Regions from separate parts of the Homo sapiens genome. Here regions 1, 3, 4 and 5 are each linked to region 2. The links come from fine-mapping of genetic effects on gene expression. A gene starts in region 2. Each other region holds a variant in brackets. All regions are shown on one strand. Distances are from middle to middle. Region 1 holds the start of SPDYE3 (speedy/RINGO cell cycle regulator family member E3). Region 2 holds the start of TSC22D4 (TSC22 domain family member 4). Region 3 overlaps TSC22D4-C7ORF61 (TSC22D4-C7orf61 readthrough). Region 4 holds the start of STAG3 (STAG3 cohesin complex component). Region 5 holds the start of STAG3L5P-PVRIG2P-PILRB (STAG3L5P-PVRIG2P-PILRB readthrough).

Evidence for each region.
Region 1: its variant is fine-mapped to the expression of TSC22D4 in blood mononuclear cells (TOPMed, PIP above 0.99).
Region 3: its variant is fine-mapped to the expression of TSC22D4 in whole blood (TOPMed, PIP 0.96).
Region 4: its variant is fine-mapped to the expression of TSC22D4 in whole blood (INTERVAL, PIP 0.95).
Region 5: its variant is fine-mapped to the expression of TSC22D4 in whole blood (TOPMed, PIP 0.97).

What each region holds. Positions count from the first base shown.
Region 1 is chr7:100,304,298-100,310,163 of GRCh38, reverse strand. It overlaps SPDYE3 (speedy/RINGO cell cycle regulator family member E3), which reads right to left and starts at 2,462. Exons shown (of 11, transcript NM_001004351.5): 1 at 2,173-2,462; 2 at 972-1,190. The coding sequence starts at 2,278. The variant C/T (reference allele first, on the strand shown) is at 2,329.
Region 2 is chr7:100,476,799-100,482,664 of GRCh38, reverse strand. It overlaps TSC22D4 (TSC22 domain family member 4), which reads left to right and starts at 3,451. Exons shown (of 5, transcript NM_030935.5): 1 at 3,451-3,871; 2 at 4,358-5,388. The coding sequence starts at 4,627. TSC22D4-C7ORF61 (TSC22D4-C7orf61 readthrough) reads left to right here and starts at 3,451. Exons shown (of 6, transcript NM_001395846.1): 1 at 3,451-3,871; 2 at 4,358-5,388. The coding sequence starts at 4,627. RefSeq lists enhancers at 2,936-3,045, 3,746-3,815 and a silencer at 3,136-3,295.
Region 3 is chr7:100,453,786-100,459,651 of GRCh38, reverse strand. It overlaps TSC22D4-C7ORF61 (TSC22D4-C7orf61 readthrough), which reads left to right. Exons shown (of 6, transcript NM_001395846.1): 6 at 2,667-3,032. The coding sequence ends at 2,900. SPACDR (sperm acrosome developmental regulator) reads left to right here. Exons shown (of 3, transcript NM_001004323.3): 3 at 2,667-3,032. The coding sequence ends at 2,900. Among named protein-coding and RNA genes, the nearest start is that of SPACDR, 7.5 kb to the left of the region's middle. RefSeq lists a silencer at 2,388-2,550. The variant G/A (reference allele first, on the strand shown) is at 3,098.
Region 4 is chr7:100,177,513-100,183,358 of GRCh38, reverse strand. It overlaps STAG3 (STAG3 cohesin complex component), which reads right to left and starts at 5,441. Exons shown (of 34, transcript NM_001282717.2): 1 at 5,354-5,441; 2 at 2,687-2,866; 3 at 1,167-1,269; 4 at 520-636. The coding sequence starts at 2,802. RefSeq lists a silencer at 5,667-5,716. The variant A/C (reference allele first, on the strand shown) is at 2,037.
Region 5 is chr7:100,335,674-100,341,539 of GRCh38, reverse strand. STAG3L5P-PVRIG2P-PILRB (STAG3L5P-PVRIG2P-PILRB readthrough) reads right to left here and starts at 5,475. Exons shown (of 17, transcript NR_036570.1): 1 at 5,203-5,475; 2 at 3,276-3,361; 3 at 2,651-2,767. It also overlaps the pseudogene PMS2P1 and the pseudogene STAG3L5P. RefSeq lists a silencer at 5,107-5,176 and enhancers at 5,667-5,806, 5,495-5,866. The variant G/A (reference allele first, on the strand shown) is at 3,136.

The sequences.
Region 1 (5,866 bases), 170 kb after region 2:
TCAGAACACTGCGTCATATCGTTCCCTGGTCCCTGGCTCTCTGAGGCCCTCTTTTTTTTTTCTGTTTCGAGACAGAATCTTGCTTTGTCACCCAGGCTGGAGTGTAGTGGTGCAATCTCAGCTGACTGCAACATCTATCTCCCGGATTCCAGTTATTCTCCTGCCTCAGCCTCTCAGGTAGCTGGGATTACAGGTGCCTGCCATAATGCCCAGCTCAATTTTGTACTTTTAGTAGAGACGGGGGTTTCACCATGTTGGCCAGGCTGGTCTCAAACTCCTGGCCTCACGTGATCCACCTGCCTTGGCTTCCCAAAGTGCTGGGATTACAGGTGTGAGCCACTGCACCCAGCCTGAATTTCTCCATTCTTCCCACACACCCTCCCCAGGTTCTCCTTCCTGACCTCTGACCCTTCTTTTTTTTCTTCTTTTTTTTTTTTTTTTTTGAGACAGCGTCTCACTCTCTCACCCAGACTGGAGTGCAGTAGCACGATCTCGGCTCACTGCACCCTCTTCCTCCCAGGCTCAAGCGATTCTCCTGTCTCAGCCTCCCGAGTAGCTGGAACTACAGGCATGAGCTACTGTGCCCAGCCTTGGTTTTTCTTTTGACGCAGAGTTTTGCTCTGTCACTCAGGCTGGAGTGCAGTGGTGCAGTCATAGCTCACTGCAGCCTCGAAGTCCTGAGTTCAAGCAATCCTCTTGCCTCAGCCTCCCAACGTGCTGGGATCTCAGGCGGGAGCCACAGCGCCTGGCCCAAAACCAAGCTTTCTTATCCCAAGCACCGACCTTTATCAAGTCTACCTAATCCTCTGTTGTCTCCTAAGTGTCCCTCATGAGTGATCACTTCAGAGTCCTCCCGCATGGAGAGCTCACCCACTGGGGCATATTTTTCCCATTGGAAAAGTGTGGTTATTGGAAGTTTCCTCTTTTTAGAAAGAACAGGATTGGAGGTGCTCTCTGGGGTGTCCTCCTACCAAGCAGCCTGTTGAAGGCCTCGTAGTACTCAGGGAGCACGAGCGACACTCGCCGTCGCTTCGCCTTCATCTTGAGGCCACACAGCGTCTCCGCCACCCAGGTCTCCTCAGGCTCAGGGGCGAGCTCCTTCTCTGGCTCATCATCAGATTCATCCAAACACTCCCTCTTCCTTTTGCAGCCAAGGGACCTACGTGGGGGGCTGGGATCTACCCCAGGGGCTGAGTAAAGAAACCAGGCCACCGTGTAATGCTTCTGCAACTGATCACGTTAGACCCCGACCCCAAACCCCAAACCATTCTCCATCCTCCCCAGCCTCTCAGACTGCTGGCTTCTCCAAGCCACCTTTCTGACTTTCTCCTCTGCTCAACCCCATGTGCCACTCCTTCCCCTCCCCATTCTTCCCTCTCTCTGTCCTCAGAACACTGCGTCATATCGTTCCCTGGTCCCTGGCTCTCTGAGGCCCTCTTTTTTTTTTTTTGTTTCGAGACAGAATCTTGCTTTGTCACCCAGGCTGGAGTGTAGTGGTACAATCTCAGCTCACTGCAACATCCATCTCCCGGATTCCAGTTATTCTCCTGCCTCAGCCTCTCAGGTAGCTGGGATTACAGGTGCCTGCCATAATGCCCAGCTCAATTTTGTACTTTTAGTAGAGACGGGGTTTCGCCATGTTGGCCAGGCTGGTCTCAAACTCTTGGCCTCACGTGATCCGCCTGCCTTGGCTTCCCAAAGTGCTGGGATTACAGGTGTGAGCCACTGCACCCAGCCTGAATTTCTCCATTCTTCCCACACACCCTCCCCAGGTTCTCCTTCCTGACCTCTGACCCTTCTTTTTTTTCTTCTTCTTTTTTTTTTTTTTTTTTTGAGACAGCGTCTCACTCTCTCACCCAGACTGGAGTGCAGTAGCACGATCTCGGCTCACTGCACCCTCTTCCTCCCAGGCTCAAGCGATTCTCCTGTCTCAGCCTCCCGAGTAGCTGGGATTATAGGCACACACCACTACCGCCTGGCTAATTTTTGTACTTTTAGTAGAGATGGGGTTTCACCATGTTGGCCAGGCTGGTCTTGAACTGCTGACCTCAGGTGATCTGCCCGCCTCGGCCTCCCAAAGTGTTGGTGTTACAGGGGTGAGCTACCGCACCTGGCCCCCTTCCTTCGTCTTAGTCAATCCTATGCCACCTCTTCTTCCTCCAGTCCCCTCACCTGATGGTCCCGACACTTCATCATCCACCACCTCCTGGAGGGGGTACCCTGAGGTGCTCCGCTGGGGGCTCTGCTCTTCCTGGGGCTGCGGTTGATGGCTCGTCATGATCTTTCCCAAAATCTGTCCAATCTCACCGAAGCTAGTCTCTGTTCTGT[C/T]CTTGGTCTTCTTCTGGACACTGCTGGGATCCAGAAGAGTGTGTTATCAATTCTCGAGGCTGGGAGAAGTCAGGAGTGGAGAACAGCTCTGAGAAGTTACTGTTGTTCACCTGAACTGCCAGGCGCCGACAGAGTCCGGTCCTTCCAATCAGGAAGGTCGGAATCTCTGATGTCATAGGTCATTCCAACCTGGCAACCAGTTTGAACAAAAACACATGTAACTGCCAGGCTGATCTCTTGTCCTGGAGATCCTGGGTGAATGGTATCTCCTGCCACTGTCCCAACCTCAGACCACTGTCCAAAAGCATCTTCAGGGTCTCCGCATCCCTCTGTTCCCTGTCCCAGCAGAGGCTGTGTCCTCTCCACTCAAAGCTTGAAGCGTGTTGGGGTCTCCTCTTCTCTGTACATGCCCGTTTCAGAGTCCAGTCTGGTGGGAGAGGGATCAGGATGGGAAAGAAAACTAGGGTAAGCAGAAACGATGAAACCTTATAAGAGTGAGAGTATCATGTACAAGAGATCCCAGGAACATTGACTTGATGAAAAAGTCACATCAGAGCACTCAATTTGGCAGAGCTTTTCTGCCGAATGTTTACTGATATTCACTGTCCGAGATTCTGTACTGGGTGTAACGTGTCCTCTGCCCTAAGGCATCTTTGAGTCCAAGAGATATTTTGAGGACTGGAAATCATCGGAAACTGCCCATGAGCTCACACATATTTCCAATGGTGTCCCCAGTTTCAGGGAGTCCACGGATCACCTAAAGCCAGCCCCTCCAGTTTGGCTAAGAAACTCTATATATCAAGTTTTGTATCATATGTATTGCTCTTAACTCAGAAATTCCACCATTTATAGCAGTGGTTTATTTATTTATACTATTGAAGGAAATGGTTTATTTATGAATCTATATTATGGATATTCTATAAGATACTGGGTGTACAAAAAGACTAAGTCGAAAAATCTCAGCTGTGCACAGTGGCTCATGCTTGCAATCCCATCTCTTTGGGTGGCCAAGGGAGGAAGACTGCCTGAGGCCAGCAGTTCAAGACCAGTGTAGGCAACATAGCAAGACCCCATCTCAAACAAAACAAAACAAAACAGAACAAAATTAGCCAGGTGTCGTGGCTGGCACCTGTGTTCCAACAACTTGAGAGACTGAGGTGGCAGGAGGATTGCTTGAGCCTAGGAGTTAGGGGCTGCAGTGAGCTGTGATCGTGACACCGCACTCCAGTCTGGGCAACACAGCAAGACCTTGTGTCAAAAAAATTTTTTTAATTAAATATAAAAGAGTTTCATGACATTCAGAGACCATCCAAAGAACCTGTGGGTTCCGGCCAGGCACAGTGGCTCACGCCTGTAATCCCAGCGCTTTGGGAGGCCATAGCAGGTGGATCGCTTGAGGTCAGGAGTTTAAGAGCAGCCTGGCCAACATGGTGAAACCCCATCTCTTCTAAAAATACAAAAAATTAGTCAGGCATGGTGGTGGGTGCCTGTAATCCCAGCCACTCAGGAGGCGGGGGCAGCAGAATGGCTTAAACTTGGGAGGCGGAGGTTGCAGTGAGCCAAGGTCGCACCATTGCACTCCAGCCTGGGCAACAAGAGCAAAACTACATCTCAAAAAAAAAAAAAAAACAAACAAAAAGAACCTGTGGATGAGTTCCCACATGGCTTCCTAACGGGCTGCGGCTCTCCTAGGAGTCTCTCGCTCATGGGAAAGGCACAAACTGAATGTGGAAGGAAATCCCATTGCTGTGGAAGTCCCATTGTTAGGAAGCTCTGCTTTTCTGGAGTTCAAATTTGCATTCATGACGCTTTAAACCGTCAGAGCTGGGTGTGTCCTCCTACAACAAATCACTTTACTCTCTCTCTCTCCTAGTTAACAGGCTTTCAAATATTAGAACATCCATGTTCTGACCTCATTAAAATTGCTCTTTTGTGGAATGAAAAGCTCTGATTTAACCCGTCTTTAAGCCTGGTATGCATATTCCTCTCTGTTCCGGCCACCTTGTCTAGACACACTACACTGAGGCAGTGCCCATCTTAGATGATGTTGATACATTGTCAAAAAATGGGCAAACCAGGCGCGGTGGCTCACACTTGTAATCCCAGCACTTTTGGAAGCCGATGCCGACAGATAACCAGAGGTGAGGAGGTTGAGATCAGCCTGGCCAACATGGTGAAACCTGTCTGTTTTTCTGTAAAAATACAGAAACAATGAGCTGGGTGTGGGAGTGCACTTCTGTAATTCCAGCTACTTGCGGGGCTGAGGCAGGAGAATCACTTGAACCGGGATGGTGGAGGTTCCAGTGAGCCGAGATCACGACACTACACTCCAGCCTGGGCGACAGAGTGAGACTCCGACTCAAAAAAAAAAAAAAAGTGCCAGACAGCCCAGGTTTGGTCTGATATGTTCAGAAAAAAGCAAAACAGTCACCTCTCACCTTTTCTTTTCCTGCAATGATGCCGTTTAATACAACAATGGCTGTAGGTCTGCGGCAGAAATATCATTCAAGTGAAACAGAAGGGCTTTCCTGGCTGGACACAGTGGTCACTCCTGCAATCCCAACACTTTGGTTGGCTAAGGTGGGAGGATTTCTTGCGGCCAGGAGTTCGAGGCTGCAGTGAGCTGTGATCTACCACTGCATTCCAGGCTGGGCATCAGAGTGAGGCCTGTCTCTAAAAAAAACCCTTCACTCCCCAAAAAAAGGGATTTTCAAATACCAGCCTTTCAGCATGAGGATCACATGGAGGAACATTAAGACACAGATGCTGGGACCCAGCCCTATTGATTGTAATTAAAAAACTGAGGTGAGGCCTGATTTAGCTCCATCATTGGAATCCATTCAGATTTGAAATTCTCTGAGTTGGACAGTGCAAGAGAGATCCTAAAGAAAGCAAAGTCACCGTGGACTGAAATGAGCTGACAAGGTTTTCTGAGCGTGGTGAAATATGATCTGGGCCTTGCTTGGGAGGGCTGTGGCCAGGCCTTGAGTCCGTGGCTCAGTGGGACCTTCTGAAACAGCCTCCAATCCGTGCCCCCACTTCATTTGCTAGTGGATGACCCCCTCCAGTGGCTTTGGTGCTGATGGGAATAAGTCGACCTGCAGCGGAAGTTCAGCCCAAGTTTTAGCCCAGCAGCTTCTCCACACCTGTCCGTGGTCTGGTCATGCCGCCGTCTCTGCGGTTCTCTGCGGAGTCGTGGTTTCTGTACCTTGAAGAGAACTTCCCCTCTGGGACCCAGAAACCCAGTGAATCCTCAGGAAAAAAGGGAATGAAATTACTGAAGACAACTCTGTGGCGGGGAGATGGAAAAGAGGCTCTCTCTCTTTTTTTTTCCTAATATTTTGAGACAGAGTTTCGCTCTTGTCACCCAGGCTGCAGTGCAGTGGCTCCATCTCGGCTCACTGCAACCTCTGCCTCCCAGGTTCAAGTGATTCTCCTGCCTCAGCCTCCCGAGTAGCTGAGATTACAGGCACCCACCACCACTCCCGGCTAATTTTTGTATTTTAGGGTTTCGTCATGTTTGCCAGGCTGATCTTGA
Region 2 (5,866 bases):
CGAGGCTGGTGGATCACCTGACATCAGAAGTTTGAGACCAGCCTGGCCAACGTGGCAAAACCCCGTGTCTACTAAAGATAGAAAAAATAAGCTGGGCATGGTGGCCTGCGCCTGTAATCCCAGCTACTCGGGAGGCCAAGGCAGGAGAATCGCTTGACCTGGAAGGCAGAGGTTGACGTGAGCCCAGATCGGGCCACTGCACTCCAGCCTGGGTGAGAGAGAGAGACTTTGTCTCAGAGAAAAAAAAAAAAAAAACGAAAACAAAAACAAAAACCAAAACTTAGGCGTTTTAAGAAAATTTACCAATTTGTCTTGGGCCACAAGCTGCCCGTGCGGTTGGACAAGCTGGCTTTAGTCCATTCTTTGGAAGGGGAGGGGTAGTAAAATAATACCAAAGTGCCTTGTAAATTGTAAAAGGTCCCACATATTATAGGCTATTAAGAATGCTCCCAGGGGAGGGAAATATTAAAACACTTAAAACCCATTTCACATTTATACCTTTAGTATGATTAGTTTATATGTATAGGCCGGGAGCAGTGGCTCACGTCTGTAATCCCAGCACTTTGGGAGTCTGAGGCATGCAGATCACTTGAGGTCAGGAGTTCGAGACCAGCCTGGCCAACATGATGAGACGCCCATCTCTACTAAAACTACAAAAATTAGCCAGGCGTCGTGGCGGGTGCCTACAATCCTGGCTACTCGGGAGGCTGAGGCAGGAGAATCACAACCTGGGAGGCGGAGGTTCAGTGAGCTGAGATCACGCCACTGCACTTCAGCTTGGGTGACAGAGCAAGACTTCATCTCAAATTAAAATATAAAAATTTGTATGTATTTACTCAACAAACATTTCTGCAGAGATCAACAATGTGCCAGGGCCTCTAGACTCAGATACCAGTGCCTGAGGCAGAGAAAGAGACTGCCCAAAGATAATTTTTGAATAGTTTGTAGCAAGTCAGCAAGAAGGAAGGAGGGTCTGGGGAAGGAGGGACCAAGGCTGTGTTCTGAATGTTGCTAGAGGAGAAAAGGTTCTGTAAGGGACAGAGGGATGCAGTCTAGAGGGGTAGGGAGCAGGTGGGAGGCTGCTTCCCAGACTTCACTACTTGGGAGGCCCACAGACTTGGGCTATGGCAGCCGTTGTTACTATGGCTTAAGGGAGAGAAACAGAAGTGTGGATGCTTCTAACAAAGAGATAAAGAATAAATACATAAAGAGGGTAGGTATTGCATTGTTTTATTTTTACGTACCCCTAAAGAGGGGTTAGAGGCCGGGCGTGGTGGCTTATGCCTGTAATCCCAGCACTTTGGGAGGCCGAGGCGGGCGGATCACGAGGTCAGGAGATCAAGACCATCCTGGCTAACACGGGGAAACCCCGTCTCTAGTAAAAATACAAAAAATTAGCCGGGCATGGTGGCGGGTGCCTGTAGTCCCAGCTACAGGCTGAGGCAGGAGAATGGCGTGAACCCGGGAGGTGGAGCTTGCAGTGAGCCGAGATAGAGCCACTGCACTCCAGCCTGGGCGACAGAGCGAGACTCCGTCTCAAAAAAAGAGGGGTTAGAAATTTCCCTGAGGCCAGGCACCATGGCTCACGCCTGTAATGTCAGCTCTTTGGGAGGCCCAGGTGGAAGTATCATTTGAGGCCAGGAATTCGAGACCAGCCTGGGCAACATAGTAATAACCTGTCTCTACAAAAACTAAAAAATTAGCCAGGTATGGTGGTATACACCTGTGGTCCCAGCTACTAGGGAGGCAGAAGCAGGAGGATCACTTGAGGCCGGGAGTTCAAGACCACCCTGGGCAACATTGCAAGATCCCCATCTCTACCAAAAAAAAAAATTTTTTTTTAAAGAAATTTAGCCAGGCGTAGTAGTGTGTGTCTGTGGTCCCAGCTACTTGGGAGGCTGAGGCAGGAGCATGGCTTGAGCCCAGGAGTTCCAGGCTGTGGTGAGCTATGATCGCACCACTGCACTCCATCCTGGGCAACAGAGAGAGAGAGAGACCCTGTCTCTAAAAAAAAAGGCGGGGGCAGGTTGGGGGAAAGGGGAATAGTATAACATCTAGGATCTGATTTCAAATAGTCCAGCAAACTACAGCTGGCCCCCACACAATGTCATTTCATTGAATGTCATTTCATTATAACATTGATGATTTTCTAAAAATTGATTTTGGGCTGGGACCACCATCTGTGTGGAGTTTGCATGGTCTCCCCATGTCTGCATGGCATGTTTGAAAATTTTCATAATAATCCACTTTTTTTTTTTTTTTGAGACATGGTCTCACTCTGTTGCCCAGGCTGGAGTGCAGTGGCACAATCTTGGCTCACTGCATCCTCAACCTCCTGGGCTCAAGAGATCCTCCTGCCTCACAGCCTCCTGAGTAGCTGGGACTACAGGTATACATCACCACACTCAGTTTTTTTTTTTTTTTAAGATGGAGTCTCACTCTGTCACCAGGCTGGAGTGCAGTGGCGTGATCTCGACTCACTGCAACCTCCGCCTCCCAGGTTGAAGTGATTCTCCTGCCTCAGCCTCCCGAGTAGCTGGGACTACAGGTGCCCGCCACCACACCTGGCTAATTTTTGTATTTTAAGTAGAGACTTGGTTTCACCATGTTGGCCAGGATGGTCTTAATCTCTTGACCTCGTGATCCGCCCGCCTCGGCCTCCCAAAGTGCTAATTTTTTAAATTTTTTGTAGAGATGGGGATCTCGTTATATTGCCCAGGCTGGTCACGAACTCCTGGGCTCAAGCGATCCTCCCACCTTTGAGTAGCTGGAATTATAGGTGCACATCACCATGCCCAGCTATTTTTTTTTATTTTTTGTAGAGATGGGGTCTTGCTATTATATTGTCCAAACTGGTCTCAAGCGATCCTCCTTCCTCGACCTCCCAAAGTGCGGAGATTACAGGCATGAGCCACCACCGGGATCCGGCAATAATCCACTTTTAAAAATAAGGAATGGGGGGAATAATGCAGTTGCTGTGAAAACCAAAGGAGAATGACAGTAACAGCCACAGCTGCCCCACAGCAGGGACTGGGAACTTCTGGGTGGGCATGCAGCACACCTCCCGGCCTGTGCCTTCCGTCTCTTCTGTGTGTCTCTAGGCCAATGGCAGCAATTGACTACAAGTAAGGGAATCCCTCGCCTCCCTGCAAGCTCCTCCCCTTTCTCCCCGAGCCCCGCCCCCTGCAGCCCCTCCCTGCAAGAGTGGGGCTAGGGCCCGGCAGGTGTGGGGTTAAGGGAGTCTGTTTGGGGCCCCCAGGAGCAGCAGCCTAAGCAGTGGCTGCAGCAACTGCAACAGCAGCGGCTGTGGCAGGCCTGGCCCCGGGCCAGCTGGCGGGAAGCCCCAGGAGGGAGGGAGGGAGGAGGAAGGGGAGGAAGAGGGGAAGGAGGAGGAGGAGGAGGAGAGGAGCAGTCAGCAGGCCCGAGGAGGCAGGACTTCCTGGTGTGGGGGTTGTCAACAGCCCAGAAAGAGAAAGACGGAGAGGCAGAGACCCAGGGGAGCCGAGGAGCGGAGACACGGACCCAGCAGGGTCACGCGGGAGGAGACTCGGGACACCCACTCGCTGGCTGCCACCGGGAGCAGAGGGGGGCTCGGCCGCCCCCTCCCACATCAGTCTCCAGACCCTTGGGGCTTCAGAGGCCGCTCCTAGGCTCCTCGGAGGAGGCGCGGGTTTCTTCTTTTCCGGAGAGCAAACTTTCCTCGGAGATGCCTGGCAGGATGAGCCGCGGCCCCCGGAGAGGACGGGACAGCCTCTGATCGCCGCCTGCGTGCCCCGCCACTGCCCATGGCCAGGAGGCCCCAGGGAACGGACAGCCCGACCTCTTAGGCGCCGGGACCCTCAGGCTCAGATCAGTGGCCGAGGCCCCAGAGGTAGGGTTCAGGGCTGGGTGGGGCGCTGGGGGGTAGCCGGGCAGGGCCTGCCCCAGAGATGTGGGAGCTGGGGTGAGGGTGGGGGCTCGAGGCCCAGGAGAGGTCTCTCTGAGTGGCCGGGCCAGGCTGGGGAGCTGCTTCAGCCTGGTTCTCCCAGGCCCTGGAGTCCGAGCTCTTGGGACAATACGGGCCCCCTGAGTCAGAATCCCAGGCGAGAAATGCCCAACTCTGGGACTCATCTGCCTCTTTCTACTCTGAGTGCCTTCTTGGATCCAGTCCCCTCTGCCCTGGTCTCTGTCATCTCTTGCCTGTCTCTGGGTCTCTGACGGTTTCCCCTTCCCCCACTCTGCTCCCCGGAGAGGAAGCCCCGGAGGTGGCCTGCCCACTGGTTTCACACACACACACACACACACACACACACACACACACACACACACACACACTCTCTCTCTCTCTCTCTCTCTCTCTCTCCCCCTCTTTTTCCAGTTTGCAAACTCAGCTCTGGAGTTCAGCAGCAACAGCAGCAGGAAAAACCTGCCCCTGCTCCCCCCTCCCGCCACCTCCCCTCTCCTCTTCTCCCCTCACCCAGCAGGCACCCCCGGTTCCCGCCAGGCCCTCCTGCCATGTCGGACCCAGACGTCCCCAGGGGCTCGGATGTCCCCGCCATGTGGCCCCCTTGTTCCAGGGGTGCCTGAGCCCCTTCAAGGAGCCCCAACCCACCCCCAACCTTGGCCCAGCCCTGAGCCCCAGGGACCATGAGCGGGGGCAAGAAGAAGAGTAGTTTCCAAATCACCAGCGTCACCACGGACTATGAGGGCCCTGGGAGCCCAGGGGCTTCGGATCCCCCTACCCCACAGCCCCCAACCGGGCCCCCGCCCCGCCTGCCCAATGGGGAGCCCAGCCCCGATCCGGGGGGCAAGGGCACCCCCCGGAATGGCTCCCCACCACCTGGGGCCCCTTCCTCCCGTTTCCGGGTGGTGAAGCTGCCCCACGGCCTGGGAGAGCCTTATCGCCGCGGTCGCTGGACGTGTGTGGATGTTTATGAGCGAGACCTGGAGCCCCACAGCTTCGGCGGACTCCTGGAGGGAATTCGAGGGGCCTCAGGGGGCGCCGGGGGCAGATCTTTGGATTCCAGGTTGGAGCTGGCCAGCCTCGGCCTGGGCGCCCCCACCCCACCGTCAGGCCTGTCTCAGGGCCCCACCTCCTGGCTCCGTCCACCCCCCACCTCTCCTGGACCTCAGGCCCGCTCCTTCACTGGGGGACTGGGCCAGCTGGTGGTGCCCAGCAAAGCCAAGGCAGAGAAACCCCCACTGTCGGCCTCCTCACCCCAGCAGCGCCCCCCAGAGCCTGAGACCGGTGAGAGTGCGGGCACATCCCGGGCTGCCACGCCCCTGCCCTCTCTGAGGGTGGAAGCGGAGGCTGGGGGCTCAGGGGCCAGGACCCCTCCACTGTCCCGGAGGAAAGCTGTAGACATGCGGCTGCGGATGGAGTTGGGTGCTCCAGAAGAGATGGGGCAGGTAAGACCTGGGTTCTAGGGCTGGCCCATCAGCCCTGGCCTAACCTCTATCTTGAGCCTCCTTCCTCCTCCTCCCCCCCCTCTCCTCCTCCTTCTCCATCACTTTATAAGATCAGATAGCCCTCTTCTCTGTGCCTGCCAGGTCACTCTGAAGCCCCTTCCTCCTACTTCATTTTCTGTCTCAGCCTCCTTCCTGTTTTTCTGCACCCTCTCTCTTTCTCCCTGGCCTCTGATTCTCTGTCTTGGTCTTCATGTAGCCTGTAGCATATGTGGCCCCCTCATCAGGCCTTCTTCTGTCTTGGTCTCAGCCCCTCTGCCTCTAGGTGATGAGGGTGGAGGCCCCAGCTGGATAGCTGGGTAGCTGGGTCCCTAGGGGAGGAGCTGCCAGGATTTGGGGAGGAAAAGTAAAAGGTAGGCCTTGCGCGCTGCCAGTCTCTGCACTGCAGCCCCATCCTGAATGTGGGGGTCTTTCTTTTCCC
Region 3 (5,866 bases), 23 kb after region 2:
ATCTGCAAACAAACAAAACAAACACACAAATAAATAAAATTCTAAAAAGACGGAAAGGACAGGGCCGGGCGTGGTGGCTCATGCCTGTAATCCCAGCACTTTGGGAGGCCAAGGCAGGCATATCACCTGAGATCAGGAGTTCGAGACCAGCCCGGCCAACATGGTGAAACCCTGTATCTACTAAAAATACAAAAAAATTATCTGGGCATGGTGGTGGGCTACTCGGGAGGCTGAGGCAGGAGAATCGCTTGAACCTGGGAGGCGGAGGTTGCAGTGAGCTGAGATCATGCCACTGCACTCCAGCCTGGGCAACAAAAGTGAAACTCTGCCTGAAAAAATAAAGGCCGGGCACGGTGGCTCACACCTGTAATCCCAGCACTTTGGGAGGCCGAGGCAGGCGGATCTCGAGGTCAGGAGATCAAGACCATCCTGACTAACAGGATGAAAGCCCGTCTCTACTAAAAAAAAAAATACAAAAAAATTAGCCAGGCGTGGTGGCAGGCGCCTGTAGTACCAGCTACTCGGGAGGCTGAGGCAGGAGAATGGCGTGAACCCGGGAGGCGGAGCTTGCAGTGAGCCAAGATTGTGCCACTGCACTCCAGCCTGGGTGACAGAGGGAGACTTCGTCTCAAAAAAAAAAAAAAAAAAAAGGTAAAAAGGACAAACTATTGATACACACAGTAACGTGGGTGTGAATCTTGAGGGAAATTTTTTGTTTTGTTTTGAGACGGAGTTTCACTCTCATTGCCCAGGCTGGAATGAAGTGGTGCGACCTCGGCTCACTGCAACCTCCGCCTCCCAGCTTCAAGCTATTCTCCTGCCTCAGCCTCCCGATTAGATGGGACCACAGGTGCCCACCACCACACCCAGCTAATTTTTTGTATTTTTAGTAGAGATGGGGTTTCACCATGTTAGCCAGGCTGGTCTGGAACTCCTGACTTCAGGTGATCCACCCACCTTGGCCTCCCAAAGTGCTGGGATTATAGGCATGAGCCACTGGGCCCGGCCTCAAGGAAATTATACTGAGTGGAAACAACCAATCCTAAAAGGTTATATTCTGAATGATTCCGTTTATATTATCTACCACTCTTGAAATAACAAAAGTCTAGAAATGGCAAACATATTAGTGGCTCAGTGGTTTCCAGGGGCCACAGAGATAGGGGGAGAAGAGTGTAGTTATTAAAGGACAACATGAGGGACACTTGTGATGATGCAAATGTTCTGTATCTTTTTTTGTTTTGTTTTTGTTTTTTGCTTTCTCCTGTCTGATGGAAATGTTCTGTAGCTTTCTGTTTTGTTTTGTTTTTATGTTTTTGTTTTTTGTTTCTCCTGCCCGATGGAAATGTTCTGTACCTTGACTGTGGTAGTTGGATACATGAACCTGCATACTGGATAAAACTTGGTAAAATTATACACACACACACACACACACACACACACACACACACACACACACCAGTGAGTACAAGTACAACTGGGGAAATCTACATAAGATCAGTAGATTGGATCAATGTCAATATCCTGACTATGATATAATAGTATAGATTTGCAAGATTTTCCTATGAGGTGAACTCAGTAAAGGGTGCACAGGATCTCTATGATTTCTTCCAATTGCAGGTCAGTCAGTCTACAATGATCTCAAAACAAAACAAAACAAAAAAACAGTTTAAGCCGAGCGTGGCGACTCACGCCTGTAATCTCAGCATTTGGGAGGCTGAGGCAGGTGGATCACTTGAGCTCAGGAGTTCAAGACCAGCCTGGGCAAAACCCCATTTCTACAAAAAAAAAAAAAAATATATATATATATATACACACACACACACACACACACACACACACACACACACATATATATATATAAAAGTTAGCCGGGCATGGTGGTGCACGACTGTAGTCCCAGCTACTCAGGAGGCTGAGGTGGGAGCATCACTTGAACTTGGGAGGTGGAGGTTGCAGTGAGCTGAGATTATGCCACTGCACTCCAGCCTGGGTGACAGAGTGAGACCTTGTCTCAAAAAAAAAAAAAAAAAAAAGGCCAGGCATGGTGGCTCACGCCTGTAATCCCAGCACTTTGGGAGGCCGAGGCCGGCTGATCACTTGAGGTCAGGAGTTCGAGACCAGCCTGGCCAACATGGTGAAACCCCTTCTCTACTAAAACTACAAAAATTAGCTGGGCGTGATAGCGAGCACCTGTAATCCCAGCTACTCAGGAGCCTGAGGCAGAAGAATCGCTTAAACCCAGGAGGTGGAGGATGCAGTGAGCTGAGATCATGCCACTGTACTCCAGCCTGGGTGATAGAGCAAGACTCCATCTCAAAACAACAAAAAAAAGAAGAATAGAACTGATGGGCCAGGTGTGATGCCTCACGCCTGTAATCCCCAACACTTTGGGAAGCCAAGGCAGGAAGATCTCTTGAGCCCAGGAGTTCGAGACCAGCCTGGGCAACATAGCAAGACCCCGTCTCATTAAAAAAAAAAAAAAGGATAGAAATGACAAACATTTGATGCAACCTGAGAAGGCTTTCTGGAGGAGGTGATGTATGAGTTGGGCTGATGGGAGAGGTGGAATCAGGGAGCCCTTTGCTGTTTATCTATGGGTCGTTCTAGCGGCAGTTTCTCCCTAGACCCAGCTATTTACGCATGCACATCTTCTCTTTCTCTTACAGTCATCAGTGAGTTCTGCCTCAGTCAGCTCCCAAGTGAGGACGCAGTCACCTTTGAAGACTCCGGAGGCTGAGTTGCTGTGGGAGGTGTACCTGGTGCTGTGGGCCGTTCGGAAACACCTGCGCCGGCTGTACCGCAGGCAGGAGAGGCACAGACGGCACCACGTCCGATGCCATGCTGCCCCCCGACCCAACCCGGCTCAGTCCCTGAAACTGGATGCCCAAAGTCCCCTCTAGGGGGAACCCCAGACCCTTAGAGAGTCCTGACCTCACTCTTACCTGGGGTCCCATATCAGCCCCTTCATTCCATGTATTCCAGTTGTAAAACAAGTATCAAAATATTGGGAAATAAATATCAGATAGTTCTGAGTCAGTATGGAGTGTGTTTGTGGACGGCGGGAGGGGATGAGAGGAGTTTGGGTGGGTCAGGGAGA[G/A]ACCCCTAAGGTGAGGGCCTAAATCCCAGTAGGGGTCACCTGTGGGTCTATTTGGGGGGAAGCATGGTCAGCACGTTTCTGCTCTGGGTCCCACCCCCTTCTTGGGGCCAAAATGCCTGTTTGTAACTCCACCTTTCCTTATAAGGACGGTAACAGCTGCCATTCACCAAGGACCCAGTCCCGTCAGCTGCTGTCCTTAGCGATCCTACAAGAAAGGTATTTAGGGTGGATTACGGGACTTGTCCAAGGCTCAGCAAAGGAGGCCTTGCTGGAAACTGCCAGCTCCCAGGGGTAGCCCACTACCCTGCCTCTCTGGTGCTGAAGGGCTTTGCCATGGGCTTGGCTGTGGAGAGTTGTGCGTCTGCAGACGCACATGGGGGCTGTGGGAGATGCATCCACGTGCTGTGAAGGAACTCCAGCCCCGCTGCCTGCTGCCCGCGCCTCACCAAGAGCTGAAACTACACCTCCAGGGGGCTCTACAGGGACCATGCTCACGGCAGGGCCGGGTGAAGGCTGCAGCCTAGGAGCTGGGTGAGGGATTTGGCCTGGCACCGTGGGAATAAGGACCTAGAGGGAGGCTGTGGCAATTTGGAAGGAGGTTGGAGGGCAACGGAGACAACAAGAAGGGAGACCCAGCAGCCTCAGGTCCCCTCTCGGAGTAGCCAAGCCACATGAAGGTGCAGAGGTGGCTCTCCAGGAAAAAGCAGGGTTGTTTCACAAAAGCAACAGCAAGGCCGGGCACGGTGACTCATGCCTATAATCCCAGCACCTTGGGAGACTGAGGCGGGAGGATTGCTTGAGCTCAGGAGTTTGAGACCAGCCTGGGCAACATAACAAGACCTTATCTCTTAAAACATCTTTTTCACATGGTGAAACCCCGTTTCTACTAAAAATACAAAAAATTAGCTGGGTGTGGTGGCATGTGTCTATAATCCCAGCTACTTGGGAGGCTGAGACAGAATAATTTGAACCCGGGAGGCAGAGGTTGCAATGAGGTGAGATTGCACCAGTGCACTCCAGCCTGGGCAACAGAGTGAGACTCTATCTCAGAAAAAAAAAAAAAAAGAAAGAGAAAAGAAAGGTCATGTAGCTTTCATTCTGCACATGTTACACAGCAGGTGTTCAACACATGAGTTAAGTGACTTCACTGGGAATCAGTCCTGAGTGAAGCCTAAAGTCAAAGCCTGCTTTCAGGTTTTCAGGCGGGGCCTCAAAACAGACTAATAAAGAGCAGCTCATGTCTGGAGTTTTCAATCACCAATTATTCATCACGTCTCTATTATCTGCCAGGAACCCTTCTGGGGGTGAATGGTGTTGGTGCAGGATCTGAGTCCCAGGAAGCCCTGAGATTTAATGGGTCCTGAGGTTTGGAGTAGTACCTAGCTGTCTAACATCCGGGATCAGCCCCTCCGAGTCTTTAGAGATGAGCTCCTCATCGCTGGGGACCTGAGGTTTCAGTGAGAGGAGGGGAGGGGAGAGTAGGACGAAGCTGGGCCTCTGAGGGTCACTGGTAAAATAGCCTTGCAAGTAGCTACAGGCCCAGGAGCTCATCCAGGCTTGACGCTGTGGGCTTGTGGAAAGGAATACTGCTCTCGTTTGTCTTTGGCTTCTTCAGCTCTTGGGAGTGGAAGGGAAATTAAGGAAGGTGGGTTCAGCCAGCAACCAAGGCACATCCCATCACTCTCTCCTTCCCCAGATCTGGAGCCCTGTCTAGGCTTGGCTGAGCAGGCACAGGCAGACTTGTGGGAGAGGAAGGAAAGGGGTGGGCAGAAGGAAGCTGCCTCTTGATGACAGTTTTTTTGTGTGTTTTTTTGAGATGGAGTCTCACTCTATCGCCAAGGCTGGAGTGCAGTGGTGTGATCTCGGCTCATTGCAACCTCCGCCCGTGGGGTTCAAGTGGTTCTCCTGCCTCAGCCTCTGGAGTAGCTGGGATTACAGGTGCTTGCCACCACACCCATGTAACCGTTTTTGTTTTTTGGTTTTTTTTTTTTTTTTTTTGAGACAGAGTCTCACTCTGTCACCCAGGCTGTAGTGCAGTGGCATGATCTCCGCTGACGGCAAGCTCCGCCTCCCGGGTTCACACCATTCTCCTGCCTCAGCCTCCTGAGTAGCTGGGATTACAGGTACATGCCACCACGCCCGGCTAATTTTTTTTCGTATTTTTAGTAGAGAACGGGGTTTCACCATGTTAGCCAGGATCGTCTTGATCTCCTGACCTCGTGATCCGCCTGCCTTGGCCTCCCAAAGTGCTGGGATTACAGGCATGAGCCACCGCGCCTGGCCACACCCGGCTAACTTTTGTATTTTTAGTAGAGACAGGGTCTCACCATGTTGTCCAGGCTGGTCTTGCACTCCTGACCTCAGATGATCCACCTGTCTCAGCTCCCCGAAGTGCTAGGATTACAGGCGTGAGCCACTGCACCCGGCCAGTGGTTTTTGTTTTTTAGAGACAGGGTCTGGCTCTGTTGCCCAGGCTGGAGGGCAGTGGCGCAATCATGGCTCACTGCAGCCTCCAACTCCTGGACTCAAGCGATCCTCCCACCACAGCCTCCCGAATAGCTGAAACTACAGGTGTATGCCACCATGCCCAGCTAATTCTTTTTTAATATTTGTGGCGATGGGTTCTAGCTATGTTGCCCAGTCTGGTCTCAAACTCCTGGCCTCAAGCAATCCTCCTACCTCGGCCTCCCAAAGTGCTGGGATTACAGGTGTGAACCACTGCACCCAGCTAGGAATGTCATTTTGGAAGTGATAAAGAATACCATGTGC
Region 4 (5,846 bases), 300 kb after region 2:
TAATCACTCCTGTGATACCTTTAAGAAAAGAACATGCTCTCTCAAAGCCAGGTGCAGTGACTCACGCCTGTAATCCCAGCACTTTGGGAGGCCAAGGTGGGCGGATCACCTGAGGTCAGAAGTTGGAGACCAGCCTGGCCAACATGGCGAAACCCCATCTCTACTAAAAATACAAAAAGTAGCTGGGCGTGGTGGCACACGCCTGTAATCCCAGCTACTTGGGAGGCTGAGGCACAAGAATCGCTTGAACCCAGGAGGCAGAGGCTGCAGTGAGCCAAGACTGTGCCACTGCACTCCAGCCTGGGCGACAGAAAGAGACTCTGTCTAAAAAAAAAAAAAGAACATGCTCTCTCATTCAAGGTTACCCTTCTATCACTCCAAGGATTCACCCCATAACCTTATCTTTCTTGACATGTTACACTCACTAAAATGTTCACGTCAAATCAAGTTTGTAGACACTTGTCCTTACCACCTTACAAAAAGTGAGATGGTATCAACAGAGGTGAGACACTGCTTTACCTGCATGTCACTTTTGGCGGCTTTCACAGCATTGAAAAGATCATTGGCTGGTGGCTCTGACTGTTTCCGGCTATGACGATGTACCACTCGGGACCCTTTCTTTGGATGTTTTGCCACCTAATATGTATAAAAAGATCAGAAATATGAAAAAAAAACAAAAAAGGTAACAGTGACATTAACGCTTGGTTTCATCATTATCACACAAGTAGGCTTAAGCTGCCAATTCCACAGCAGAGTCTGAGTTAGACTCAGTCCTGAAATAATTGATTTTTATATTGTTATGAAGTTTATTTTTTTCCCTTAAAAAAAAAGTCCTTGAGTCCCCTTCCTGTATCTCTACATCCTAACGTCCTTTTCTCTTCTTTTCTCTTCAAAATTTCTCTTCTTCCTATTTCCATCCCTTAATACTTTGTAAATCTTGTCCTTTTATGAACCGTATCACCTGAACCTCTTTTAGGTTTTCTTTTCTTTTTTTTTTTTTGAGACGGAGTCTCGCTCTGTCGCCCAGGCTAGAGTGCAGGGGCGCAATCTCGGCTCACTGCAAGCTCTGCCCCCTGGGTTCACGCCATTCTCCTGCCTCAGCCTCCCAAGTAGCTGGGCTGCTTCCCCCACAAGATTCAAAAACAAAAGAAAACTGGCTGACTCACCGGTGTTGTTTTCGGTGGTCGTTTTGCTGCTCTCTTCTTCACATTGCGATTCAAGCTGTCTTCAAAGTCAGTGTCTTCATCAGCTAACAAAGAGTCGCCATTCCTGTGAGAAAGTATGGTTCTCTTTAAATATAACCACCCTATTCCCTCCATATAAAAGGCTAATTAATTATGGTTTCTCTGTCTCTCACCGCACCCCATCTCCATGAGAAAAACATATCCAGATTTTAAGAAAAAATGAGCTTATTGTTAGTAGGAAGTTGGGACAAAGTCTTTTTTTTTTTTTTTTTTGAGACGGAGTTTCACCCTTGTCACCCAGGCTGGAGTGCAATCGCATGATCTCAGCTCACTGCAACCTCCGCCTCCCAGGTTCAAGCGATTCTCCTACCTCAGCCTCCCGAGTAGCTGGGATTACAGGTGTTTCACCGTGTTGGCCAAGGTGGTCTCAAACTCCTGACTTCAGGTGATCCACCCGCCTCGGCCTCCCAAAGTGTTGGGATTATAGGCATGAGCCACCACACCCGGCCGGGACAAAGCCTTAAAGGAAAACTTTCACATGAAAGCAATGGAGATGAAGAATGAGGAAATGAGGCAGGAGAAGGACAACTCTTCCTAGTATTCTCTCCGAAGAAGAGAATCAAATGATACTCACTTAGCAGGTAGCGAGATCACTGCTCTTTGTAGAGAAAGATAATCATGGCTCAGGAAGTCATCTATCATTCATCCATAAATGGGAGAGTAATATGTATCTAGAGTTAAATTTCACCCCCTTGAAACATAAACCACATGTCTTATCAATTCAAGTTTATAACTTTGATATAATCTGGTCCCCCACAGCAGCACTGACAGAAACAGAAATGATTCAGAGAA[A/C]GCCAATTAAAACAGCCAGGGGATAAAGCAGATCTGTATGAAATTCGCTTTTTTCCTTCTGGAAAGGTAAAAAACCAAGATATATTATTATAACCTACACAGAATAAACTCATATATGGTAATAAATAAGGATACACAGACCTATTTACAAAATCCCCAAGTAGAAGAAATAGGGGACACTAGCCAAAAAGTATATACAATTTACCAGGCAACAAATAAAGAACTCTTTACTCCCCCATCTGCCAGCTCTCAGCCCCCACCAGGGTTGGTACATGCTGAACATAGAAATGTGTTTAAGAGAGGTTTAGACAAGATGGATGATGGATTAAAAACAGGATGTGCTTGAACCCAGGAGGCGGAGGTTGCAGTAAGCCGAGATCGCGCCACTGCACTCCAGCCTGGGCGACAGGGCGAGACTCCGTCTCAAAAAAAAAAAAAAAAACAGGATGTACTACTATTTTGATGTCTACAACATCTAGGACCGCCAAAAAAAACACCTGGAGCTGGAGGGAGGGTGTCACTGTGCTGAACGAGTATAGCACTTCTGGTGTTTTCACACAGTCCCACGCATATTATCATCAATGTGGGAAAACGAGGGGGAAGGCTGCCAGGGACACAGGAAGTGGCCACACAATGCAACATCTACTTACCCCTCTGAGGTATGGTTTGAGTCCCTGTCATCAAAGGGTAGACTGGCAGAGGAACTAGAAGATGCAGACAAGGCCCTCTTGGTATCTCCCACAGCTCTTTGCAACGGGGAAGACATGCTTGGAGAGGAGGAGCTATGAGGCCAGGAAGATGAGGACCACAGGGTAGGTATGGCGATCCAGCTGGGGAAGAAAGAGAAGAAAGGGCTCCTACCACAGCACTTCTCCATCCCCAGCCCTGACCAGTCCCTTTCTTTCCAAGGGAATGGTTCTAGAACTCTGGGGTCAGGTGAGGGGGACCAAAAACTAAGACAAAGGCTGGGCACCGTGGCTCATGCCTATAATCCCAGCACTTTGGGAGGCCAAGGCAGGAGGATGGCTTGAGCCCAGGAGTTCAAGACCAGCCTGGGCAATACAGCAAGACCCCATTTCTAAAAAAAAAATAATAATAATCATTAGTCAGGTGTGGTAGAGCATGCCTGTATTCAGCTATTCAGGAGGCTGAGGTGGGAGGATTGCTTGAGTCCAGGAGTTCAAGGCTGCAGTGAGCTACGATCGCACCACTGTACTCCATCCAGCTTGGGTGACAGAAGAAGACCCTGTCCCCCCTCAAAAAAATAGTAATGATAAATAAGACAAATGGCTGGGCACAGTGACTCATGCCTGTAATCCCAGCACTTTGGGAGGTCGAGGCAGGCAGATCACCTGAGGTCAGGGGTTCGAGACCAGCCTGACCAACATGGAGAAACCCCATTTCTACTAAAAATACAAAATTATCCGGGTGTGGTGGCATATGCCTGTAATTCCAGCTACTTGGGAGGCTGAGGCAGGAGAATCGCTTGAACCTAGAAGGCGGAGGTTGTGGTGAGCTGAGATCGTGCCACTGCACTCCAGCCTGGGCAACAAGAGTGAAACTCCATCTCAAAATAAATAAATAAATAAGACAAAGAGCTGACCTAAGGCATCAAGGGATTAAGCACAACAACACCCCAGAAACTGGCCAGCAGGTTTGGAGTTGCTCTCCAAAAGCTGAGGAAGTCACACACCAGGGTAGCTTCAGACACATCTCTCTCTAGAGGCTGTGGAAGTGCAAACTGCCTACTGCAAGGAAATTTAACTCATAGGTATTTTCTTTAAAAAAAAAAATTGCACACTGGGTGTGGTAGATCATACTTGTAATCCCAGAACTTTAGGCGGCTGAGGCGGGAGGACTGCTTGAGCCCAGTAGTTCAAGACCAATCTGGGCAACATAGCAAGACCCCATCTCTACAAAAAATAAGCAAAAACTAGCTAGGTGTTGTTGCGCACACCTGTGGTCCCAGCTACTCAGGAGGCTGAGACAGGAGGACTGCTTGAGCCCAGCAGTTTGAGACCAGCCTTGGCAACATGAGACACACCCAAAAAAAAAAAAACAAAACCCAAGCAAGGTACACACCAGGGCAGCTTCAGACACAGCCCTCTCTAGAGGCTTCAGAAGTGTAAACTGCCTGCTGCAAGGGAATTTAACTCATAATTAAAAAAAAAAAAAAAAAGGCAAGGTGCCCAGGGTGGCTCAAACCTGGAATCCCAGCACTTTGAGCAGCTGAAGCAGGAGGACTGCCTAACCCTACGAGTTCAAAATCAGTCTGGGCAATATAGCAAGATCCTGTCTCTACGAAAAAACCAAACCAAAACCAAAAAAACTAGCCAGGTGTGGTGGTGCACCTGTAGTCCCAGCTACTCGGCAGAATGAAGCGGGACGATCGCCTGAGCCCAGGAGGTCGAGGCTGCAGCGAGCTATGACTGCACCACTGCACTCCAGCCTGGGAAACAGAGCGAGACTCTGTCTCAAAAAAAAAAAAAAGTAATGACAAATAAATAAAATAAGGCAAAGAGTGGACCTAAAGCACCAAGGGATTACAGACACCAGAAACTGGGCAGTGGGTTTGGAATTGCTCTCCAAAAGCCGAGGCGTGGTGCACAGTGCTCCCGCCTATAATCCCAGTACTTTGGGAGGGCGAAGCGGGAGCATCGCTTGGGTCCAGGAATTCAAGATCAGCCTGGGCCACATAGCAACGCCCTGTCTCTAAAAAAAAAAAATTAAATGGAAAAAAAAAAAAAAGCCAAGCAAGGCAGACAGCAGGGCAGCTTCAGACGCACCCCTCTCTGGAGGCTTCGGAAGTATAAACCGCCCTCTGCAAGGGAACTTACAGGTTTTTTAAAATGAAATAAAAAAAATAAAGAAAGAAATAAGAAAAAAAATACAAGAAGACCCCAGGCTTTCGTTTCCAGAGGACTAGCACCTGATTCCACCTGGAATGGAACAGGAGGCTCTTAAGGATTTGGGGGTGGAGGCGCCATGAGAATAGGGCTGGAAACGCAAAAGGAGGAAAGGCAGGTGCGCGTTTCCTATTTTTCCAGAAGGTAAAAATATCTACGACTGCCCCTGGGGTAAGCGGCTCCAGGATAAAGAGCCTTCCAAGCGCTTAAGAGAATGGACTCTCAGTCTATGGAGGCCTGGGGAGAGGATTCTCCAGCTCTGTGGCGGAGGCCATTGGGGCACGGCCCGGGAAGGCTCCTAGTGTCAGGGCCGGGAGGGTCGCGAGAGGGCCTATTCTTGGGTCAAGGAGAAACCTGTCAGAGCCTGGAAGAGTGACTTCTGGCCGAGCAGGGTTCAGGGAAGGTCCCCACCTCAGGTCCCTCGGGTGTCTCTGGCCACCCCACCTTCCACACAGGCGCCCGCCGCTGCCCTTCCGGGGGCGAAAGATTCCAGAAAAGCGCGGGAACGTACAAGACACGCTGTGCGCAAGCGCAATCCCAACGGCTCGCCCAGGGCCAGTAGCTATCGCGAGGTTTGGAAGTGTGCGAGCTGATGCGCGCCACGTTTGAGTCACGCCGCTCCACAGCCTCGTGTGGCCTCAAGCTCTCAGGCGTCCTGCCCTCTCACGTGGGCTTGGGCACGCGGGCGGCCCGCTTTAGCCCCGCCCCCACCCAGGTCCCACCCCCGCTACCCTCAATCTCCTACTCCATTGGGCGGGTTTTGGACCAGACTGCTAGTAACCCCTTTAATCTGGCTTCTCAATTGCCATAGGCTAGGTTCCACCCAGGCCCCGCCTTTTGAGCCGGATCGCCACGCCCCCGAGGGAGACCACGCCCCTATTTCACCAACCTCCTGAGTGCCAGC
Region 5 (5,866 bases), 140 kb after region 2:
CCACTAGATAAACTACTCACAGGCAGTCAAACTCTCCCCATCTCTACTGCCTCACCCCGCCTCTCAGTTACTAAGCAATACTTCCTGGAGAGCCTGTAGACAAAGCACCTGCGGGGTGTGGGGACACCTATACACTGGGCCATGGGACAAGGCGGACCAAGAACCTGACCTCCATCAGTTTAACGATCTCAAGCCACACCTTGGGAACGTGTGGATTCAAACATGTTTATTGAGTGAATCATTAGGACACAAAATAGGCTGAAAAAGATGTTCCAAAAATCCAGGAGACTATGGGCTACTTCCATTAAACACAGAGGTGCTGCCCTTCTCCACTCCAAACAGAACAGGAAAAAGGCAAGGGGACTGGGCCACAGTGCATTAGGGAGGACAGGGTCTCTCGGCTTCTCTACCCCAACATCACCAGAGGGAAAGGTTAGGTTAGAAAAACAATGCCCCACTCTTTCCCCTCAGAGCCCAGGGCTGAAGCCTGGGGGAATGCTTCATTTTGCTCCTTTTCTCTTTGCCTTTTCCAAATGGTCACATTCTTGAGGTAGGGAGTGGAGCTGGGGAGGGGCCCAGAGTCCTGTCAGAAATCCTATAATGAGAAAGATGAAAGGAATACACAGGTGCACCACCACGCCCAGCTACCTTTTCGTATTTTTAGTAGAGATGGGGTTTCGCCATGTTGGCCAGGCTGGTCTCGAACTCCTGACCTCAAGTGATCTGCCCGTCTTGGCCTCCCAAAGTGCTGGAGTTACAGGTGTGAGCCACTGCACCCGGCCTCCATACCTCTTTTAAAAACCAATTTTGAAAGTTCATTCAGGCTGGGCATGGTGGCCAAAAATTAGCCAAGCATGGTGGCGGGTGCCTGTAGTCCCAGCTACTTGGCAGGCTGAGGCAGGAGAATCGCCTGAACCCGGGAGGCGGAGGTGCAGTGAGCCAAGATCGCGTCACTGCACTCCAGCCTGGTGACAGAGCAAGACTCCGTTTCAAATAAAAAACTAACACACTGTACAACTGCATGTAAGGTGGAAAAGACAACTGGAATTAAAATGTGCTCAGGTCCTTGTAGAAGATAAGAAATCCAGAGGAAAGTAAGCAAAGGGGGAAAAAGAAACAGAAAAGATAAAACGAATGTACCAACTCAATACTAGGCCATAAGGCTAAGTCTCCATAAATGTCTTTTTTTTTTTTTTTTTTTGAGACAGAGTATCACTCTGTTACCCAGGCTGGAGTGCCATGGCACAATCTCAGCTCACTGCAACCTCCACCTCCTGGGTTCAAGCAATTCTCATGCCTCAGCCTCCCAAGTGGCTGGGATTACAGACAAATGCCACCACATGCAGCTAATTTTTGTATTTTTAGTAGAGATGGGGTTTCGCCATGTTGGCCAGGCTGGTCTCGAACTCCTGGCCTCAAGTGATCTGCCTGCCTCAGCCTCCCCAAGTGCTGGGATCACAGCTGTGAGCCACTGCGCCCAGCCCCTACATAAATTTCAAACACCACATTCCCTGACTACAACACAATAAAGTTAGAAATCAAATAACGAAAATATAACTAGCAAAATTCTGTATGTTTGAAAATTTTAAATATTTTCCCAGAAACTATAAAATTACACATTAATGTGGATAAATCTCAAACAATGTTAACTGAAATAATTAAATCACAGAAGCCTGAATAATGGATTCATTTACATAATTAAAGAACACATTCATAGTGGTAACACTATAATGAAATGACAAAGATTAACACAAAATTCACCCTAGTGTTTACCTATGGGTAATAAGGGGACTGTGAGGTAGGGTAGAAAGAAGGTACACAAAGGATCTCTACAGCACTATTAATGTTTCATTTCTTGAGCTGGGGCTAGAGATCTGGGTGATATCTCATTTTTATTTTTTAAACTACATATACGCTTTGTACACTTTCAGATATTAGAACTTCAATAAAATTATAAAAAAAGAAACAGAGAGAGGGAAAAATAATTAAGTATAATTGTCAAGATGGAGCTAAAAAATAACATGGGTGAACAAGGTGCCACCCACATCTAAGCTTCCTTCCCATGTCATGCAATGCCTCTCCCCATCTGCTCCATCAATCAACAAAGGCATAATCACTCCTGTGATACCTTTAAGAAAAGAACACGCTTTAAGAAAAGAAACGCTCTCTCGAAGCCGGGTGCGGTGGCTCACACCTGTAATCCCAGCACTTTGGGAGGCCGAGGCAGGCGGATCACCTGAGGTCAGGAGTTGGAGACCAGCCTGGCCGACATGGCGAAACCCCATCTCTACTAAAAATACAGAAATTAGCTAGGCATGGTGGCACATGCCTGTAAGCCCAGCTACTTGGGAGGCTGAGGCATAAGAATCGCTTGAACCCAGGAGGCAGAGGCTGCAGTGAGCTGAGACTGTGCCACTGCACTCCAGCCTGGGCAACAGAAAGAGACTCTGTCTCAAAAAAAAAAAAAAAAGAACATGCTCTCTTATTCAAGGTTACCCTTCTATCACTCCAAGGATTCACCCCATAATCTTATCTTTCTTGATATGTTACACTCACTAAAATGTTCACATCAAATCAAGTTTGTAGACACTTGTCCTTACCACCTTACAAAAAGTGAGATGGTATCAACAGAGGTAAGACACTGCTTTACCTGCATGTCACTTTTGGCAGCTTTCGCAGCATTGAAAAGATCATTGGCTGGTGGCTCTGACTGTTTCCAGCTATGACGATGTACCACTTGGGACCCTTTCTTTGGATGTTTTGCCACCTGATACACATAAAAAGATCAGAAATATGAAAAAAAGGTAACAGTGACATTAACACTTGGTTTCATCATTATCACACAAGTAGGCTTACGCTGCCAATTCCACAGCAGAGTCTGAGTTAGACTCAGTCCTAAAATAATTGATTTTTATATTATGAAGTTTATTAACTTTTTTCCCTTTAAAAAAAAATTCCTTGAGTCCCCTTCCTGTATCTCTATAACCAAACATCCTTTTCTTTTCTTTTCTCTTCGAAATTTCTCTTCTTCCTATTTCCGTCCCTTAATACTTTGTAAATCTTGTCCTTTTTTGAACCATATCACCTGAACCTCTTAGGTTTTCTCTTTTTTTTGAGACTGAGTCTCGCTCTGTC[G/A]CCCAGGCTGGCGTGCAGTGGCGTGATCTCGGCTCACTGCCAGCTCTGCCCCCGGGGTTCGTGCCATTCTCCTGTCTCAGCCTCCCGAATAGCTGGGCTGCTTCCCTGACAAGATTCAAAAACAAAACTGGCTGACTCACCGGCATTGTTTTCAGTGGTCGTTTTGTTGCTTTCTTCTTCACACCGCGATTGAAGCTGTCCTCAAATCATTTTCTTGTCTTCTTGTCTATTTGTATGAATTACTGAGTTACATTCTCATTGCTACTTATTTAAGCAAAGTATTCTTAGTTTGTTAACAACAAAGAACTACAAATTGTGTTCATTTTCTGTCCTTTCCTGTTCTTAGACTAAATTACCTGAAATACATCAAAATATATGCTGTATGCTTACCTATATCAAAACTATGTTGTTTAGGTGCCGGGCACGGTGGCTCACACCTGTAATCCCAGCACTTTGGGAGTTCAAGGCGGGCGGATCGCCTGAGGTCAGGAGTTCAAGACCAGCCTGGTCAACATGGCAAAACCCCGTCTCTACTAAAAATACAAAAATTAGCCAGGTGCAGTGGACAGCGCCTGTAATCTCAGCTACTCATGAGGCTGAGGCCTGAGAATTCCTTGAACCCAGGAGGCCAAGGTGGCAGTGAGCCGAGATCATGCCACTGCACTCCAGCCTGGGTGACAGAGTGAAACTCCGTCTGAAAAAAACAAACAAACAAAAACAAACAAAAAACCAGACCATATTGTTTAGGGATACTTAGCTGACAAAATAATAGAGACAAGCAGGACATAATTACCATAAAAATCGGGCCCTGGGATGTTGGTGGGGAAGGTTTAAGTGGAAAGAATGGAGCGGTCACAATGTGTGTCAACCTGGGAGGTGGTGACCCTGGGGTTCGCTTTGTAATTCCTCAAAATGAGCATTTATGTGCTACTCACTTTTCAGAGGATAGAATTCTGAACTAAAATGTTTAAGCAGCCATACGCAAAAAAAAAGAAAAAATATGGATAGATTTTTATTTTAATTAAAACATTTAAAAAATAGAGACAAGGCAGCTGGGCGTGGTGGCTCACGCCTGTAATCCCAGCAATTTGGGAGGCCGAGGCAGGCGAATCACGAGGTCAGGAGATCGAGACCATCCTGGCTAACACGGTGAAACCATGTCTCTACTAAAAATACAAAAAAAAGTTAGCCAGGCATGGTGGCGGGCGCCTGTAGTCCCATCTACTGGGGAGGCTGAGGCAGGAGAATGGCGTGAACCCGGGAGGTGGAGCTTGCAGTGAGCCGAGATCAGGCCACTGCATTCCAGCCTGGGCGACAGAGCAAGACTCCAACTCAAAAAAAAAAAAAAACATAGAGACAAGGGTCTTGCTATGTTGCTCAGGGTGGTCTCAAACTCTCCGGGCTCAAGCAATCCTCCCGCTTCGGTCTCCCAAAGCGCTGAGATTCCAGGCGTGAACCACCGCGCTCGACCAGGAAAGATATATATATATATAATATATATTTTATAATATATCATGTTATATATTACACATAATATACAATATGTATAATACGCATAATAAAGGTATATTTAACATATATAAAAATATATATATATATAATAATTTTTTTTTTGAGACGGAGTTTCACTCTTGCTGCCCAGGCTCGAGTGCAATGGCTCGATCTCAGCTCACTGCAAGCTCCGCCTCCAGGGTTCAAACCATTCTCCTGCCTCAGCCTCCCGAGTAGCTGGGATTACAGGCGCCCGACACATGCCCGGCTAATTTTTGCATTTTTAGTAGAGACGAGGTTTCACCATGTTGGCCAGACTGGTCTCGAACTCTTGATCTCAGGTGATCCGCCCGCCTCGGCCTCCCAAAGTGCCGGGATTACAGGCGTGAGCCACGGCGCCCGGCCTGAATAAATCTTTTAAAACATAAAAATCTGGGTGACCCCCTGGCCGGCCGGCACAGATGCCGGGGTGGGGCCGCGAATCGGTTGGGACGCACTCTATCCGGCCTAGGGGCACCTGGGCCAGCAACGGGCCGCCGCGCGTGCGCAGTGGGCGGGGGGGCCCCGCGCTCCTACCTGCAAGTGGCCAGTGCCGAGTGCTGGGCCGCCGCTCCTGCCGTGCATGTTGGGGAGCCAGTACATGCAGGTGGGCTCCACACGGAGAGGGGCGCCGACCCCGTGATAGGGCTTTACCTGGTACATCGGGGTGGCGCGTGCCAGACACCAACGGTCGGAAACCGCCAGACACCAACGCTCGGAATCCACGCCAGGCCACGACGGAGGGCGACTACCTCCCTTCTGACCCTGCTGCTGGCGTTCGGAAAAAACGCAGTCCGGTGTGCTCTGATTGGTCCAGGCTCTTTGACGTCACGGACTCGACCTTTGACAGAGCCACTAGGCGAAAAGGAGAGACGGGAAGTATTTTTTCCGCCCCGCCCGGAAAGGGTGGAGCACAACGTCGAAAGCAGCCGTTGGGAGCCCAGGAGGCGGGGCGCCTGTGGGAGCCGTGGAGGGAACTTTCCCAGTCCCCGAGGCGGATCCGGTGTTGCATCCTTGGAGCGAGCTGAGAGCTCGAGGTGAGCTGGGCTCGCGGTCGCCCCTCTCGCGCGCCCTCTTTAAGAACCACGGCGTCCAACCTCCCTGGAAATGGGGGGAACATGGCCGAGGCGCGTGGCGAGGCCGCCTCGTGGAGGCCCCGGAGCGGCATCCTCAGCGCCCCAGCGATCCGGTGCCCATTAGG